Linked DNA regions of Homo sapiens. The protein of the gene in region 3 interacts with the protein of the main gene of each other region in a biochemical or structural test. Each region holds a gene or a part of one and is shown on either strand. Other genes may lie near its edges.

Evidence for each region.
Region 1: the proteins of RAP1A (region 3) and RAPGEF1 form a complex in vitro, tested with the Homo sapiens proteins (one study listed by BioGRID).
Region 2: of the proteins of RAP1A (region 3) and RAPGEF6, one has a biochemical effect on the other in vitro, tested with the Homo sapiens proteins (one study listed by BioGRID).

The regions. Positions count from the first base shown.
Region 1 is NC_000009.12:131,730,045-131,737,100, forward strand, and holds part of RAPGEF1 (rap guanine nucleotide exchange factor 1), read right to left. Parts: intron 1-7,056. UniProt on the Homo sapiens protein: Guanine nucleotide-releasing protein that binds to SH3 domain of CRK and GRB2/ASH. Transduces signals from CRK to activate RAS. Involved in cell branching and adhesion mediated by BCAR1-CRK-RAPGEF1 signaling and activation of RAP1.
Region 2 is NC_000005.10:131,423,389-131,429,253, reverse strand, and holds the end of RAPGEF6 (rap guanine nucleotide exchange factor 6), read left to right. Parts: intron 1-37; coding exon 38-352; intron 353-1,962; coding exon 1,963-1,988; 3' UTR 1,989-5,333; downstream 5,334-5,865. UniProt on the Homo sapiens protein: Guanine nucleotide exchange factor (GEF) for Rap1A, Rap2A and M-Ras GTPases. Does not interact with cAMP.
Region 3 is NC_000001.11:111,713,789-111,717,191, reverse strand, and holds the end of RAP1A (ras-related protein Rap-1A precursor), read right to left. Parts: 3' UTR 501-3,403; downstream 1-500. UniProt on the Homo sapiens protein: Counteracts the mitogenic function of Ras, at least partly because it can interact with Ras GAPs and RAF in a competitive manner. Together with ITGB1BP1, regulates KRIT1 localization to microtubules and membranes.

The sequences.
Region 1 (7,056 bases), on a different chromosome or scaffold from region 3:
TTAGCCAGGCGAAGTGGTGGGCACCTGTAGTCCCAGCTACTCAGGAGGCTGAGGCAGGAGAATGGCGTGAACCCGGGAGGTGGAGCTTGCAGTGAGCCGAGACTGCATCACTGCACCCCAGCCTGGGCAACAGAGCGAGACTCCCTCTCAAAAAAAAAAAAAAAAAAAAAAAGAAACAAATTAACAAAGCCCAAAACAACAAAGAAACTAATGTGTACAAAAATGTTTCAAAAGCTATTTTGATGATTAGTTAAGTGCTATCCAACATTTACTGCCATTAAAAATCATCAACAAAACAAGCCTCAATAAGTCCACCCCACATACTGCAGTCTAGACTCCCAAAGAACCAGCCTTAGGCTGGGAGGTGGCTCACACCTGTAATCCCAGCACTTTGGGAGGCTGAGGCGGCGGATCACAAGGTCAGGAGTTCAAGACCAGCCTGGCCAAAGAGACCAGCCTGGTCAACATGGTGAAACCCCATCTCTACTAAAAATACAAAAATTAGCCGGGCGTGGTGGCGGGCGCCTGTCATCCCAGCTACTTGGGAGGCTGAGGCAGAAGAATTGCTTGAACCTGGGAGGGGGAGGTTGCAGTGAGCCGAGATCACCCCATTGCACTCCAGCCTGGGCAACAGCAGAGTGAGACTCCATCTCAAAAAAAAAAAAAAAAAAAAAGAAGAAGAACCAGCATTAGAAAGGGCTCCGGGGTGGGTTTATCCACCCTACCAAATTACAACAAAGGCACCTGAGGCTCAGGAGATTAAGCAATTTGCCCACGGTCACCCAGCCAGAAGCAAGGCTTCCGCAGCCCCCTGTGAGCTCCAGCAGGACAGTCAGGAGGAGAGCTGTCTTCTGAAGGAATCCTCAGGATGATGGGGTGTCCTGTTAGTGCAGCAGCTGCCTCTGTGGCAGAGGGGTCCCTGGAAACATGAAGGCTCATTTTCACCCAAGTCACACAGCCAAGAGAATAATATCAGAATCAATAAAAATATAGATGCATGGGGAATAGTCAGATGGGCTTTAGTCCTAACTTTGCCCCAACTCAGTATATGACTATGTGCAAATGTTAACTCTTTCAGGTCTCAAAGAAAAGCTCTGTGTCTTAGTCTCCTCCTCTGTAGGATGAGAACAGTTAACAGTACCTTTCTCCTATTGTAAGGATTAAATGCAACCACAAGTGTAAAATATACAGAAGCGAGCCTGGTACAGCACGTGGTAAGTGCCTAATGAACATCAGCTACTACTATTATTTGTATTTATTATTGAAAGGAGGGGTTGAGAGTAGCCAATTCCATGACTCATGAACAATCATCCATCTATTTATTCAGAACCATCACTTGAAGGAGGATGGGCGCATGTGATAACCAGCAAATAAATACAACCACTGTTTCCAACCAGGGGTTTTGTTTGTTTGCTCGTTTGGGGTCAGCTAAGTGGCTATTTAACACGGTCACATTCCACTGGATGTCAGCTGTCCTCTCTTCTCATTCCATGTCCTTCCTTCTCTCAGTTACTGTCAGTGTCACACTCCTGCTCCGTTTTTAACAATACAGTGTGTGGCTGGGAATCGCATCTGTCAGGTCCACATCAGTGGCACAAATTTTAAAAGCTATAGAGCAAATGCCTGAAATCCGCCCCTCTGAACCCAGCCCTGGGCAAACCACACAGCATCCTGTGCTCAGTGCTCCATTTCTACGCTTTAAAAGCACTGCAGAATCGCCTGATCACAAAACTTAATATGCAGTAAAGTCACTGTGTGGTTTGGGCAAGCCAGTGAAAAGCAAAGAGAAAGCTGCTGCTAAGGGACTGTGGGGACAGAAGTCTAAGCTGTTACAGGAGTCGTGGTGTTCCGGGAAGCAGCAGTCCAGACTGCAGGGTGGGACTTGGGTTCAGAGAATTGTCACCTGTCTTTCAAACTACAGCCTGGGAGAAGAAAGTGGGAGAAAGGAATTGTGACCAGCAGACAGCAGATTTCTAATAAATTCAGATGAACCTCCCCCCCTGTACCTTAGCTCACAGAGGAGGGGGAAGTAGCAAGAAAATACTGCCCATGCCTCTTGACAAAGAAGGAAGGGGGTGCCAGAGGCACACCAACAGCCTGCACCCCAGCCCTAGACAGCACACGCTGCACAGTCATCCTGGGAAAAGAGAGTAATGCTGCAGGAAGCCAGTCCTAAATCACATTCAAAGGCCAACTGAAAAAAAAAAAAATAACAAGTAGGGACAGGGATTCCTGGGATGGTGCTCATTATGGGTGTCAGGCTGAGTAGAGCTGGCACAGGCCTTGGTTTGTAAACACAGGGCAGAACGAGCATTACCTAAGAGCGCTTTGCTCCTGCACATCCCAAAGAACCAGGCAGTCACTACAAGTGGAAGCTCAAAGAACATGCACTCAAGTGGAAGCTCAAAGAACGTGCACTCAAGTGGAAGCTCAAAGAACGTGCACTGACCAATGGATGCGGCATCAGAACCGAGTGGCGGCTCAGCCTTCACGGTGTCCTGGCGTTCTCCCAGTGGTGTTCTGGGAATTTGATCCTAACCTCATCATTAGTGTTCAGAGGACTACAGGAAAACACAGAACCCCCAACTAACTGCACACCACTGATCAGATATTGGTCCTACTAATGTACCAAGAAACATCCTAATTGGCAATTTGAAACCACAATAAGCTACGTCTAAAGATAATTTGAGACTTGGAACCAGAAACTAAAATTCATTCTATGATAATATTAACTAAATTCACTCATTCTTTTAGTAAGTATTTACTGAGCACCTATTGCGTTCAAGGCACCGTAATGGCACCGCAGTGGTAGACACACTCCCTCACGGAGCTAATCATCTGTTTAACATTTCACTTGTTGATTTTTTAACTTGCAGAAAGGAAACTGGGGCTTTGATTTTGAATGAGTGAAACATCATTCTACTCAAGCATTGATCTGGGGCATTTCCATGGAATTTACTATATGTTAGAGGAAGAGAAGGCACAAAGAGCCCAGAGGAAGTTGATTTTGGTAGAGGCAGCTGTGAGAGCATCGAGGAAGTGGGTTTTCACATTGTGTTTGGGGTGGAGGGTCCAAGGAGGAGCCTCGGCCACAGCTAAGCAGGAAGGACTGCATTCAAAGAGGCTTCCCCATTAGTGGTTACCTAATGGCCTTCTTATGTATAAAAAAGGGCCTGCAGTCACGCATGCGGGGCTTCAAACCTAGATGACGGGTTGATAGGTGCAGCAAACCGCCACGGCACATGTATACCTATGTAACAAACCTGAACGTTCAGCACATGTATTCCAGAACTTAAAATTTAAAAAAGCCGGGGCGGGGGCGGGGGGGGGGGTGGTGCGGGGTTGGCGGGGGCAGTGGCTACAGCTTAAAAACACAAACAGAGGAGCGCTCCTTTTGAGTCCCACTCCTTCCTGGCACTGATGGGGAAAATAAGCCCCAGGAAAGGGTAAGAATCACCCAAGGACACAACTAAGATGTTCTCAAACAGATGACCAGAAACTAAGATGACTGGCCTGCTGGATGACAGATCCCTTAATAATTCACAAACGGTGGGTTTTATTTATTTACTCATAAAACAGCCTTTGGGGCAAGACGGGTGACGAGTCAGAGGAACACCTGTCCCGGCGGCGAGGCGGCCGCGGGGTGGGGCAGGCGGTGGGTTGTCAGGCCTCTCCTCTTTCCAGAGCGTGATCTTATCCTGGCCATGGGGAACACGCTCAGCTGGCCTGAGGTAAGACCCAGCCTGGCACTCAAGGCAATCTCCAATCCGGGCTACTTTGGGAGACATTTTTCTGCAAGCTCACACATGACTCATCTCTACAGACCTCCTATAAGGTCTCTTGGCTACAAGGAATCCCATTCAAACCGCCTCTGCCAACAGCTGCTCTGGAGACCAGGAAACATTTGGGGTTGCTGTGGTTGATTTTTCTAAAAACACACTTAGCTGGCATTAGTGCTATTTCTTATCTCTCTACAGCACTGTTAATGTGACTAGTATTACGAGTATCAGACGCAGTCTAAAGACTGTAGTGAGCCTCCCTTAATTTCATTGGTAGATCTTTTTTTTCAAAGATCAGAAAAGAGATTGAGAAGCCTGAAGAATTAAGATGGAAAGCTGTGTCCCCAGCAACCAGGGAGGCTCTAACCAGTGCTCTATAAAGGCAAGAAAGGGGGCCGGTTCCCCATTCCACTTCTCCAGGGCATGACCTTGGGCAAACAACCAAATTTCCCTGGGCCTTAGCTGCCCTGAGGGGCAAAAGAGGGATACTCCGCCCTGCCCTCACCCCCTGGGCTGTTGTGAGGATGAAATGAAATGAGGTAGTCTATAAATGCATTCTGAAAACCACAGGAAATTGCAGAGATGTTCAAGATCGTTCTGATTCTACCCCTGGACTGTGGCCTCCAGGGACAGGTTCCTGCTGGCTCCCTGCCACGAGGCATCACTTGGTGTTTGCCAACAAGGAGGCACTCAGTAAGTGTTAAAACGGGTGAGTGAAAGGAGGCAGAGCAGGTGCCATCAAAATGTCTCATTGCTTGACTGAGTATACTTTGACGACAAAAATTCCTAACTATGGAGGAAAAAGGAAGTACAAATTTGACGAGTTTAAAATTGATCGAAATACAATGACTGCCAATCTAAGAGGACCTCTTTCTCAGGCCACAAAAATGAGTAGCCCTACATCATAGGGCCTGTACTCTTAGTATCTGTTCTGAGAAAATATATCATGACAAAAATGTGACCATGAAATGCAGTCATTATAAATTTCTTTTCGATTTACAATAAAAGCATCTTCACACATTTGAAACCGTAGCACACTGAGCGTGAGACACCTATTTATTCCATCTTCAGGCAGCGTGCTGGGCAAGCCTGTGGCCACTTTAGCAGGCCCAGTGAACTGCTCCAAGGTGACAGGAGCTACAGCGCTGGCAGGAGGGTCTGGTAAATGATGAAACTCCCAGCCAGCCTGTGGTTCGCTGGGAGCACAGAGAGGAAGGAAAGGGACTTTAAAAACATACATACAAAACTGCTTAACTTATGGCCAGCCCAGTTAGAAGGTATGGCCCAGGAGGCCGGGATCTTTGCTGTGTCCCAAGAACAAGAACAACTCCAGGCCCTCAGGAGGTTGCTCCGTGAGGCAGGCGATGAGTGAAGCCACTGAAGGAGGGAAGAAAGGAATGAGTGACTGAAACTGACACATGCAGTCCAAGGACCTTCTTCCCTTCAGCTGAGGAGGCCTTGGTCTGCTCCCACCCCAGGAGACTGGTCCCCTACCCCACTGCCTGTGCCCAGCTAAGTGGACCCATCCTCCGCCTCTCACCTTAAGTCCCATTTTGTCACAGGAGCACAGGAGTTTCCTGACCATCCCTCCCCACTGCAAGTCTGATCTCTTGCCACCTTCCTGCTCACCCTGTGACACACAGAGGATGCCTGTATTCAGGGCAGGCAGCACGACATCTGCTGAGTTCACCACTGAGTCCCCAGAGCCTTGTACGGAGCCTGATGGAGCCGGTGCTCAATCCCTGATGAATGAGGGATGGAGTAATGAGTCAATGAAGGGATGGGGCAAAGGTTTCAAAGTCCAGACAAAAACAAACAAACATGAATCATTTCTCCGAGGAGGGGATGCAAACGCAAATGTCAAAAGTCCAAGTGGGCCGTCGGAGGTGTGGCTGGCTGTGGGAGTGGTGAGGGGCTCTGTGGGAGTGTCCGCCACCTGACTCCTGCCCATAGCTGCCTTGTAGGCAGGAACAAGCGCTCAGAGTTACCAGAGATTCTCATTTTTCAAGGAAATCAGGAACCAGGCTTTTGAGATTTTTGAGTGACTTCCTGATTTTTCAATATTGACCATCAATTCTTTTGTTTTTTTCCTCAAGAACACGTGCGGATCCAACCCAACATATCTGTGGACTGAATCCAGCCCGCAGCTGCCAGTCTGTGCTTAAGCTCCAAAAACATGACGGTATCAACTCTCCTCGCTCAATGTCTTTATTGGAAGATATATGAGCAAAAAGAACCACAGTAACTGCTTGCACAACCAGAACCATGTTCATTTGTTCTCCAAAGCAGCCTCTAAACAGCTGCATACATCTCCCATCAGTCTTCCAGAACAAATCCCTCTGAGCTCCTAGGGAAGAGCCTCTTCTCCTCTGCAGGCCTGCCCACAAGCTCACCCTGGGAGCTCCCTAATCTGTCCAGCTCTCTTCTACTCCCTACCTCCTCGTCATCTCTAGAAGCACTGTAGAGTTTAGAAAGCCTCCCCTGCATCCCAGCTTGTTCCTGGCCCTCCAAATTCAACCTTTCTCCACCAGGCCTCACTTGACAGGCCCCCACCAGCCCAGCAAGTTGTCCCTGTGCCACCCTCTGGCCCAGACTGTCTTGATTCCCCATGGCACTTGGGACCCCCAAATGTGAGGCCTATGACCTTGTGTATTCTCTGAGGATATACATAGGTATGGATGAACCCCTCAAGGCCCTGCCCCAGCCAGGCACTGCTGCATGAGAAAGAAAATGTCCCAAAGAACAGCAATGACTCAAAAGATCTCCCCCAGGGGTTAAGGAGAGTCCTGCACACCAAGGAGGTATCAGGCAATGCAAGGGGGCGGGATGAGGAACAGGCCAGAGCTGCACACTATGCGGGATGTGAAGGGGTTTCCTGTTTACCCAAAAAACCCTGGATGCCTTAAGCACTGAGAACTAAAAACGCTGGTTCTTCTACTTTCAGGGAGAGGAGATTATGAACATATTTAAGCAACGTTTCTGTTGCTTTGAGATAACAAAACAGCAAAACTCCAATCACAACAATTGTTTGCCTGGTGTCAGGCTCTGCCACCACTTCACCTAAGGGCCTCTCCTCTGAATCAAATACTCCTCTGGAGACTGAATAGTGGGAAGTCCATTAAAAAAACTCCAACAGAAATCTAACAAAATGTCGTCTAAATGCAAAGGGAAGTTCACTGAGAATAGCCAGCAGAGACCACCAGGAAAGGTCATCCTCACTCCAGGCGCGCCCCAGTCTTCCTTGGCAGTTGTAATCTTTCACTATGATTCCTATGAA
Region 2 (5,865 bases), on a different chromosome or scaffold from region 3:
TTTCATTAACATTTTCATTGCTTATTTTTCATGCCAGTGTACTGTGTCACCTCACCCAAGAAGGACGATAGGTATAGGGAGCCACCTCCCACTCCTCCAGGATATTTGGGGATTTCTTTAGCGGACCTAAAGGAAGGACCCCACACACACCTAAAACCTCCAGATTATAGTGTGGCAGTGCAGAGGTCAAAGATGATGCATAACAGCCTCTCTAGACTGCCACCAGCTTCTCTCAGTAGCAACCTCGTGGCCTGTGTTCCATCGAAGATTGTAACTCAGCCTCAGAGGCATAATTTGCAGCCATTCCATCCTAAACTAGGAGATGTGACTGATGCAGATAGCGAAGCAGATGGTATGTTGACAAGCTCTCTTAAAGGCTCTTAAATGAATTGCTGAACACATTAAATGGTCTTTACTTTGGTATTTTATGGTAATTAGTAATTGTTTCTTTAAATGCCTTGAATCTCTGTTAAAAAGTAAGAAGTTCCTGCCGGCAGGGTGCAGTGGCTCACACCTGTAATCCCAGCACTTTGGGAGGCTGAGGCGGGCGAATCACCTGAGGTCGGGAGTTCCTGACCAGCCTGTCCAACATGGAGAAACCCCGTCTCTACTAAAAAAATACAAAATCAGCCAGGCATTATGGCGCATGCCTGTAATCCCAGCTACTCGGGAGGCTGAGGCAGGAGAATTGCTTGAACCTGGGAGGCAGAGATTGCAGTGAGCCAAGATCGCACCATTGCACTCCAGCCTGGACAACAAGAACAAAACTCTGTCTCCAAAAAAAAAAAAAAAGTTCCTAAATATAGTATGGGGGAGTGTTTTGGTTTTGTTTTATTTTTCAAGATAGGGTCTAACTCTGTTGCCCAAGCTTAGAGTGCAGTGGCACAATAATGACTCACTACAGCCTCAGACTCCTGGGCTCAAGCAGTCCTCCCAACTCAGCCTCCCAAGTAGCTGGGACTACAGGTGCACACCAGCATGCCTGGCTCATTGTTAAATTTTTCCTTTGTAGAGACAGGGTCTCACTATATTGACCAGGCTGGTTTTGAACTCCTGGCCTGAAGCAGTCCTCCCACCCCAGCCTCCGAAAGTGTTGGGATTATAGGTGTGAGCCACCACACCCAGCCAATGGTGTGGGTTGTTTGTTTGTTGAGACAAGGTCTTGCTGTGTCACTCAGGCTGGAGTGCAGTGGCATGATCGTGGCTCACTGCAGCCTCAACTTCCTGGTCTCAGGTAATTCTCCCTCCTCAGCCTCCCAAGTAGGTGGGACTACAGGCACACACCACCACACCCAGCTAATTTTTTGTATTTGAGACAGCATTTTACCATGTTGCCCAGGCTGGTCTTGAACTCCTGGACTCAAGCAATCTGCCAGCCTCAGTCTCCCACAAAGTTGGGGTTATGGGTGTGAGCCACTGTACCCCGCACTGATGGTGTATTTTTTAAATGAAATGGGCAAGCTGCCTATTTCTGTGTGCCTAGTACCCTGTGGCTCAAATGGAATATTCTTATCTTTGATGAAACAGTGGCTCAATCTAATGGGATACTTTTAACATTAATGGAATTGTATTTTACCTTAATGCATGGAAACTTGAAACTGTGTTTCAAATGCCAAATTATCTGAAATGATTCTATTGATATAGTTCCTTTTATTAGCAAAAGTCTTGACTGACTTTGTACCTGTGCCAATAGTTTGAGAAATGATTGTTTTATTGAAAATAAATGAAAATTTATGCTTTTAAACAAGAGTAATAAAATGATTAAAAACCATGAAATTCCAGTTTATTGTCAACCTTCAATGTGATCAGAAATCATAGGTATTATTATAATAAAATCTGGGCCTCGATGCAATGTTTGAGAGGATTTCTTTGTTGACATTGATTTTCTAAATAGATAACTAGATTATTAGGATCTCATTAATATGCTGATCTGCCAGTTAATTATATATTTTTTATTTTCAGAAAATGAACAAGTTTCAGCAGTCTAGCCTTTGGATGACCTATTTGAAAACCACTGAAAGTCGTGGAGGAATGGGCAAGAACCACCTCATGATTCTGCAGGCCATTGCTAACGAACAGCTCATTGCTACAACCAGTCCAGAGGTTTTATTCCCTCTACTCCGAGCAATGAAATAGACCTGAGTTATGCTTCCTTTCATTTAATTTCTGCAGATAAATAGTTTCCTGAGCAATGGATGCTATGCCTGGATACCAGTCTCCACTTTGCACGCCGGAACTGCCTTGGGACCACAGTTACAGAAAAAATGTAAACTCAGAGTGATCCTTGTGTATATTGCTATAGATTTTTCTTTAACAAGCTATTTTAAAGATAATGGCATTATTATTTCCAAGCCATAGCTTGGGCTGAAGGACAAATTGAAATTGTCTGCCAATACCAAGGATATTCTTGTATATTTGAAAAATAACTTATTATTTGAATTGTTGTGGTTTTGTTTGTATTTGAGAGCTCTTGTTAGCTGATATTCATGTTTGAGGTCATAAAATTGTCTCTGGTCTGACCAAACAGAAGTCATCTTTACAGAGGTGATATGCTTGATCTACACAGAGATGTGACTTGATCTGTAGCACCAATGCAATGTAGGTCTCAGTTTGAGAGAAATAGGAAGCCCTTTGCAGTTGAGGTGTTAGGAACCTGCTGGTCATGGTGTGGAAGGCCAAATGAAGCTGCCACAGGGTTTCTTGTCAGTCCTTTGGGAAATGGGAGGGAGTAGTTTGGGGAGGAGGGTGGGAACCCTAATTTCCACAGAATGAAATTTTGATGTTAAATGACATGTATACAAATTCTTCCTTAAGTGAAAGTTATGCTGCATCGAATTGTAACTGAAAGTATAGATCCAACAAATAGAGACTGGGTTCTAGAGAGTTCTGGTCTATAGAAACCCAAAACTAAAATCTCTCATAACTCAAGTATGGAATACTTTTTTTAAAGAAATTCTTATCATGGGTGTTGTAATAATGAAGACGAATTTGACTTTATGCAGTGTTCTGCAGCATGCCTCCCCCACATCTCATAGCACCAGGTTGTGTCTGACCTGACATACCCTGCAGCTCTCAGCTGGCTGCAGTAACATTTTGTGGGAGAAAGAGGAGCTGGAGTTACAGAAATGATTGTCTCTTGGTTCTCAGTTTTTAGCCCTTGAGAGGACATACTTTTCCAGCCTCATGGGTATGGCACTCTTAATTAAAATTTCAGTGACTGTTTACTGGATGAGGCAGATTTTTCACATTTTTGCAAATTAAATATATTTTATATATATTAAGTTTAATTTTTTCAGTTTTTTTAATGTAAAAGCAAGTGAAATTTTAATAAACTTCTGTAATTACCAAAAAAAAAAAAAAAAAAAAAGCCAAAGCCATTAACGTGCACTACCCAGATCAACTTGGAGCCAAAAGGGGTTTACTTCTGAATGGCTGTCCGTATGTGTCCACATAGGATTTAGTTGGTTTGTGGCCTCCTTTATAGAAATGTGTTGTCTTTCCCTAGCTGTCTCTGCTGTCTGTCTTCCTGCATATCCCCCTTCATTTTAAAATCATGAATCAGTTGTAAGTGGTAAATGGTAGTAGTTCATCTTTCCCATCAACATGATTGTCTCTTTATTTTAGGAATAATAGCATTTCAAAAATTCCTGTGGTAAAGAAACATTAATCTGAAACTTAAGCCTTAGAAATTAATCGCAGGTATGATAGAATGAGGCTTGGTGGTTCCATAGCTTTCTTGGTCCTTTGAAATGGGAAATAACCTGAACCAAAAATCCTAGTTTGAAAGTTACACTTCAGTGATTTGGCCTATAAACAGTGGTCCTATGATTATACATTTTTTCCTTCACTGATTTGCATAATTTTGTTTTCATGGCCACAGCAAAACAATGTGAAATATATTTTTGCTATACCCACTTTTTTTATCAAATTCAGATGTCTACTCTCACCATTTTATATTCATTTCCCCAGAAAAATGTGCTGTTTTCATAATGTCTTTATTTAGCAGGTCTTTCAAACCAAATGGAAGCCTTACCTGTCTTTGTCCTTAATAGTGTAAATATCTTGCACAGAGTGTTGAGGCCTATGGTTTTGGACTTGCACCTTACAGCTGCCTTTGTTTTATCTATCTAGCTTTAACTGTGAGTGTTCAGATCAGCTGATCACATTGATCAGGAGCCAAAGCCAAATGCTTTGTAGTTTGTTATGTATGTATCCCTTAAAAAATCATGAGGTTTTGATTTTTATATTTTAACTAAGGGTACATTCCTGCCTTCTCTTAGTTTGTCATATGACTAGAACAAGAGAAGTCTTAAGCTGCATTTACTCCAATTCCAGATCTCCATTTGTTTTTGTTTTATAAATTTATAATCTTAATGAAGAGACTAGTGCCCTCTCTTCCTGCCACAACTCTCAATCTGCCAAGACTGTTGAAGCAGTTAACGCTCAGTGCAAACTTTTGCCAAATAGTAAGTTTCAACAAAATATCTTTATAGTGAAAGATTTTGAGAATTAGTAAATCCAGTACATGATTCCATAAAAGCTTATTAAAGTTAATAATTCTAATTTACTCCAAATGATTACTTTCAATATGATCTTTGGGGAGAAAAAGCCTTTAGTGAATTTTCTTGAGGGTGATAAATCACATCATTGCGATCTATATCACCTCCTTGAGAATCTCTCCCAGGCTGAAAATGTGATGGTAATCATGGGTGTTTTTAAGAACAAATCTAATTTTTATCAAGTGTTCTTTCCTCTACAAAAAAGGAAGGAGGAGAAAAAGCTTCCTTAAAACTGATTATTTTGATTCAATTTTAAGTTTCTAAAAAAGGTGATATTAAAGTATATGTATTCCTTCAGCATTACCTTAAAGGCTAGAAAAACGGGATAAATCTTCAGAAAAGTGTCAAAAGTGTCACAGTACATGTTCAAATTTAAACTTGAATCCTGGTTCATCTTTGACTTTTGTTGTGCATTTTTAATGCTTCTTTATTTTTGATACACAGAATGCAGTTGAACTTGATCTTTTAAAATTGAGACATGTAAGCTAATCAGCAAAAGACAGAAACAAAACTGCACATCTGTAATAATCAGATAGCAATTCTACTGCACAATTCATTGATTGTAAGGTATCCTGTAACAAGCAATGTTTGTCTCCTATTTTTTGATACCTCTTAAACTTATGTCTTTTAGAAAGACAGTGCCTCTGTATGCTTTTTGTATTTTTACTGAGTGTAAATATTTGTTATATTTTTGGTTAAGAGAATGTAAAAATACCATTTATTATTATCATATCTACTAATACATTGGTGGAATCAATAAAGAATCTACATTAATCTTCTCTGTACTTAATTATAAATGTATGGAACTGATGAAATAATTACAAACTTAGTCATTCGAGAGTGCCAGTCTGGGACCTGTGTTGGTGTGAAGGCCTTATTTTTTAACTATCCAGAAAAATTGGAGTGGTCCATTTGTTGTTGGTTATGTCAAATCTGTGAAACACCATAGCTATTGTTTAGGTTTAAAAAATTGTGTTTGATGGCATACCAAGTTAACAGTGGCTTAAACTCAATTGGGGCTTGTCTTTTTGTTATTGTTGTCTGTTTCTTTTTCTTCTTACAGTAGAAAAGTCTACAGACAAAACTGTCCGGGGCTGATACTGTAACTCCTCCACGATGCTGTCAAGGATGGCAAAAGTAGGGGTGAAAAGGATAGGCTTAGGTAAGGAAAAGGTGCAAATATGTGTCTCTTTCTACGCAAAGAGAACAAAACAGTAGTTTCCAGAAGCTCCACTTGCATGTTTGTACTTACATCCCATTAGTTAGACCTCTGTTGCATGACTGGTAGCTCCAAGGGTGCCTTGGA
Region 3 (3,403 bases):
CCTCCTTGCCAGTCTTCAACACACCAGGCACATGTCCACCTCATGGCATTGGCACAGACCCTTTCCCCAAGGAATGGAAAATCCTCCTTTCCCCCAGGCAGTTGCATGGGCTGCTCACTTTGAACACTTACTCGAGTATCAACTTCAATGAGATATTAACCCACTACCACCACCTCTGCCCAGTACTCTTGCCCCTTTACACGGCTTAATTCTTCTTCAAAGCACTCATCATTACACAAGTTATCTTTTACCATTTTCTAAAGATAAAAACTCCACGAGGAAAGGGATCTGAGTCTGTACTGTTCACTGTTGTTTCCGCGGCATGCAGATCAGCACTTGCCATACAGTAGAAGTGCAATGAATATTTGTTGGTAGGCCCCTAAGGATCATGTCCTGTTCTGATTTGCATGTCCTACAACATTCAGCACAAAAATTTGAACATGGTAAGCTTTAAAAAAATTCATTGAAAACAACAGCTCAAAATAAGAGTCACACCACTGTTTAAAATGGGAAGGTTTATTAAGGTTTTTCCTCAAGAGGAACAGCCAATCTCTTGCTTCTTGAGAGAAGCAATTAGTGGGAAATGTATGTCACACCTTGGGCCCAGAACCACAGGAGGCCGCTTCTCAGCATGCCCAACGAACATACATCATCCCCAATTCCCATTTAAAGCTCATTAATGTCTACAAAACAGAATCCACGTTGCCTTCCCAGAAAACAGAACTAGGAACCCAGTCAAAGCCTCCAGCTGTTCTCAACAAGAATATTTAAGCAAGACAGGGCAATAAATGGACTGCACATTCAACAAACCCATGATGAAACTGCAGTAAAATCCAGGATCAAAGAAATGTCTGGACTACATTTTCAAGAATAACTTACAGTTTTTACATTTTGGGGAACATAAATACTAAAAGCTGGGTAGTTAGACCGCCTCAAAGCTCACATTTATTTCCCTCTCGGCAAGATGAGCTCTTTCCAGACCCTGGACAAGAATCCAAACCACTCTGCCCTTTTAAGCCTGGAGCTGATTCAAGAGGGGATATTTTAACACATATTTAGCACCTTAAATAAGTACAAAATCCAAATTCTTAAAAAGGTTATTTTACAAATTATTTTCCTCCTCCAAATACCTGACAATTTCTTCACACTTTGGTTTCAACACACATACAATTTATAAGAGTATATTTTATGTTTTCTAGCATTCTGCTGTGATTGCTTGCAAAGGAAAATACCAAGGTATTCCTTATTTCTCTTTCTGTCCCTCAGTGCCTAAGACAAAACTGAGGCACATAAACTGACAAATACATGTGTATCTACAAGGGTAATGGGGCAAAATATTTTAAACTGGCCATGTCCAGGAAATGTAGAATGTCTTATTACTATTCTTCTATGGAGAAAAATGTTCCAAGCCTGTTTTAATAAAGTTGGTAATAAAGATCATTATTTTCTATAAGTATTAACTTTTCCAAGTACATTATAACCTCAAAGAAGAAGAATATTTCAGTGAGGAGTAAATGGTGGCCATTTATGATGGCAAATCAAGGTGCCAAACACAGATTAGTTCAGAGTTGTAGGGAGAAGAGAGTAACACACCAACATCCATATTTTGCCAAAAGTTCTTAAGATAATTACCCATGCAGCTGCAGTTCAGAAAACTAGGGTGTTATTCATATCTTTGATGAACTGTAGTATCTTCCCTGCCCAATTAGATTGTAAACTCTTGAGAGAATGTCTCTATGCCTTTTTGTGAACCACACAGTGTTTATGTACTAGGACTTAAATAGTTACTTCAATGCTTATGAAAGTATTAACCGGGCCAGGCGCGGTGGCTCACGCCTGTAATCCCAGCACTTTGGGAGGCTGAGGGGGGGGCGGATCACGAAGTCAGGAGTTCAAGACCAGCCTCGCCAACATGATGAAACCCCGTCTCTACTAAAAATACAAAAATTAGCTGGGCGTGGTGGCGGGTGCCTGTAATCCCAGCTACTTGGAAGACTGAGGCACAACTGTTTGAACCCGGGAGGCAGAGGTTGCAGTGAGCGGAGACTGAGCCATTGCACTCTAGCCTGGGCGACAGGGCGAGACTCCATCTCAAAAAAAAAAAAAGTATTAACCGATGTTGAAGCTCCCCCTGGTGGAGGGTAAGATTACAGCTGGATTGTGTATTTACTGTTAATTTCTAAAAGTAGACTGTTCAGGGATACCACCAAGCCATTAGAGCAAACTATGAACTATGGCATGAAGCCTCCTTAAATTCTGTGTCACTCATATAACCAAACCAAAGTCATTATACTTTAAATAGCCACACATACTAATATGAAATCAGTTTCTAGATATTTATCATTTGACATTCACACAATATCCTAGAAACTCTTGATTTTTCAGCTATAAAAATACATTTATTTTCAGGTACCCTTCCCTTTGGAACCAAGACTAAGGAGTTCACATTAGGACAATATAAAAACACACCTATCTCACTTTCTAACAGGATACTTTTCATCCTGCTCAGCAACCACAGATTTCCTTGCACATCTGACTTCAGCTGGTCCTGCTCTGCATATCACTGTGTGCCAGAAAGGCGTTTTTCTTGACAGTTCCACCTTTAACCCAAGTGGACTGTATAAGATGTGACAAAGGAATCTAATAACTATCATCTTTCTCCACCACATTCTAAAATAGAATAGACTGAGTTTATGCTACTAGTCAAGCAGACTGAGACTTGGAGTCTTATTAAATGACTTCTATTTAATCTGTTAAATAACTACACAATAGATGTGACAAGGTAGTATTTAGAAAGTTTTACTGGTTGATGAGATGTCTGTCTATGATCTTAAGTTTAAAGGTATGTTTGAGGGGTGTTTTAAAGCAGAATGACTTTAGAGGACCTTAAAATAAAAGATGCCACCCTGACCTGACAACTGGCCCTAATACTTCATTCAAGTTCGCTATAGTTTTGGCCCCTCAATCCCAGACATATGCATAATTGGATAAGTAGAAGGGAAGTGTAAGGTAACTAAGTTTATTCGAAACTAAAACAAAAACACAAACAAAAAAAATTTCCATTTTTTTAAAAACAATACTTTAACATTTTCTCAGGTTGGTCAAAGCTTAACATTTGAAACCTGATTTTAAAATTTCAGTTTAGTAAGTGACAGGCTGACCACATGCCTGGAAAATCTCAGCAAGGCATGAACACTTCTTCATACCTAGTTGCAAAGAGACAGTATCTAGAGATCCCTGAGCAATGACTTAGACTTTCTAGGACTGGTCTGTCTCCTCCTTAATATTTGAGGACAAGGCACAGGGTTTTCTAAGCTTGTTTCTTTCCTTTTCCAGAACTTAATTGGCTAACAAGCTTTTTGTTCTACCTCTCTTTATAGAGACTACATAAGTAGTATCACCC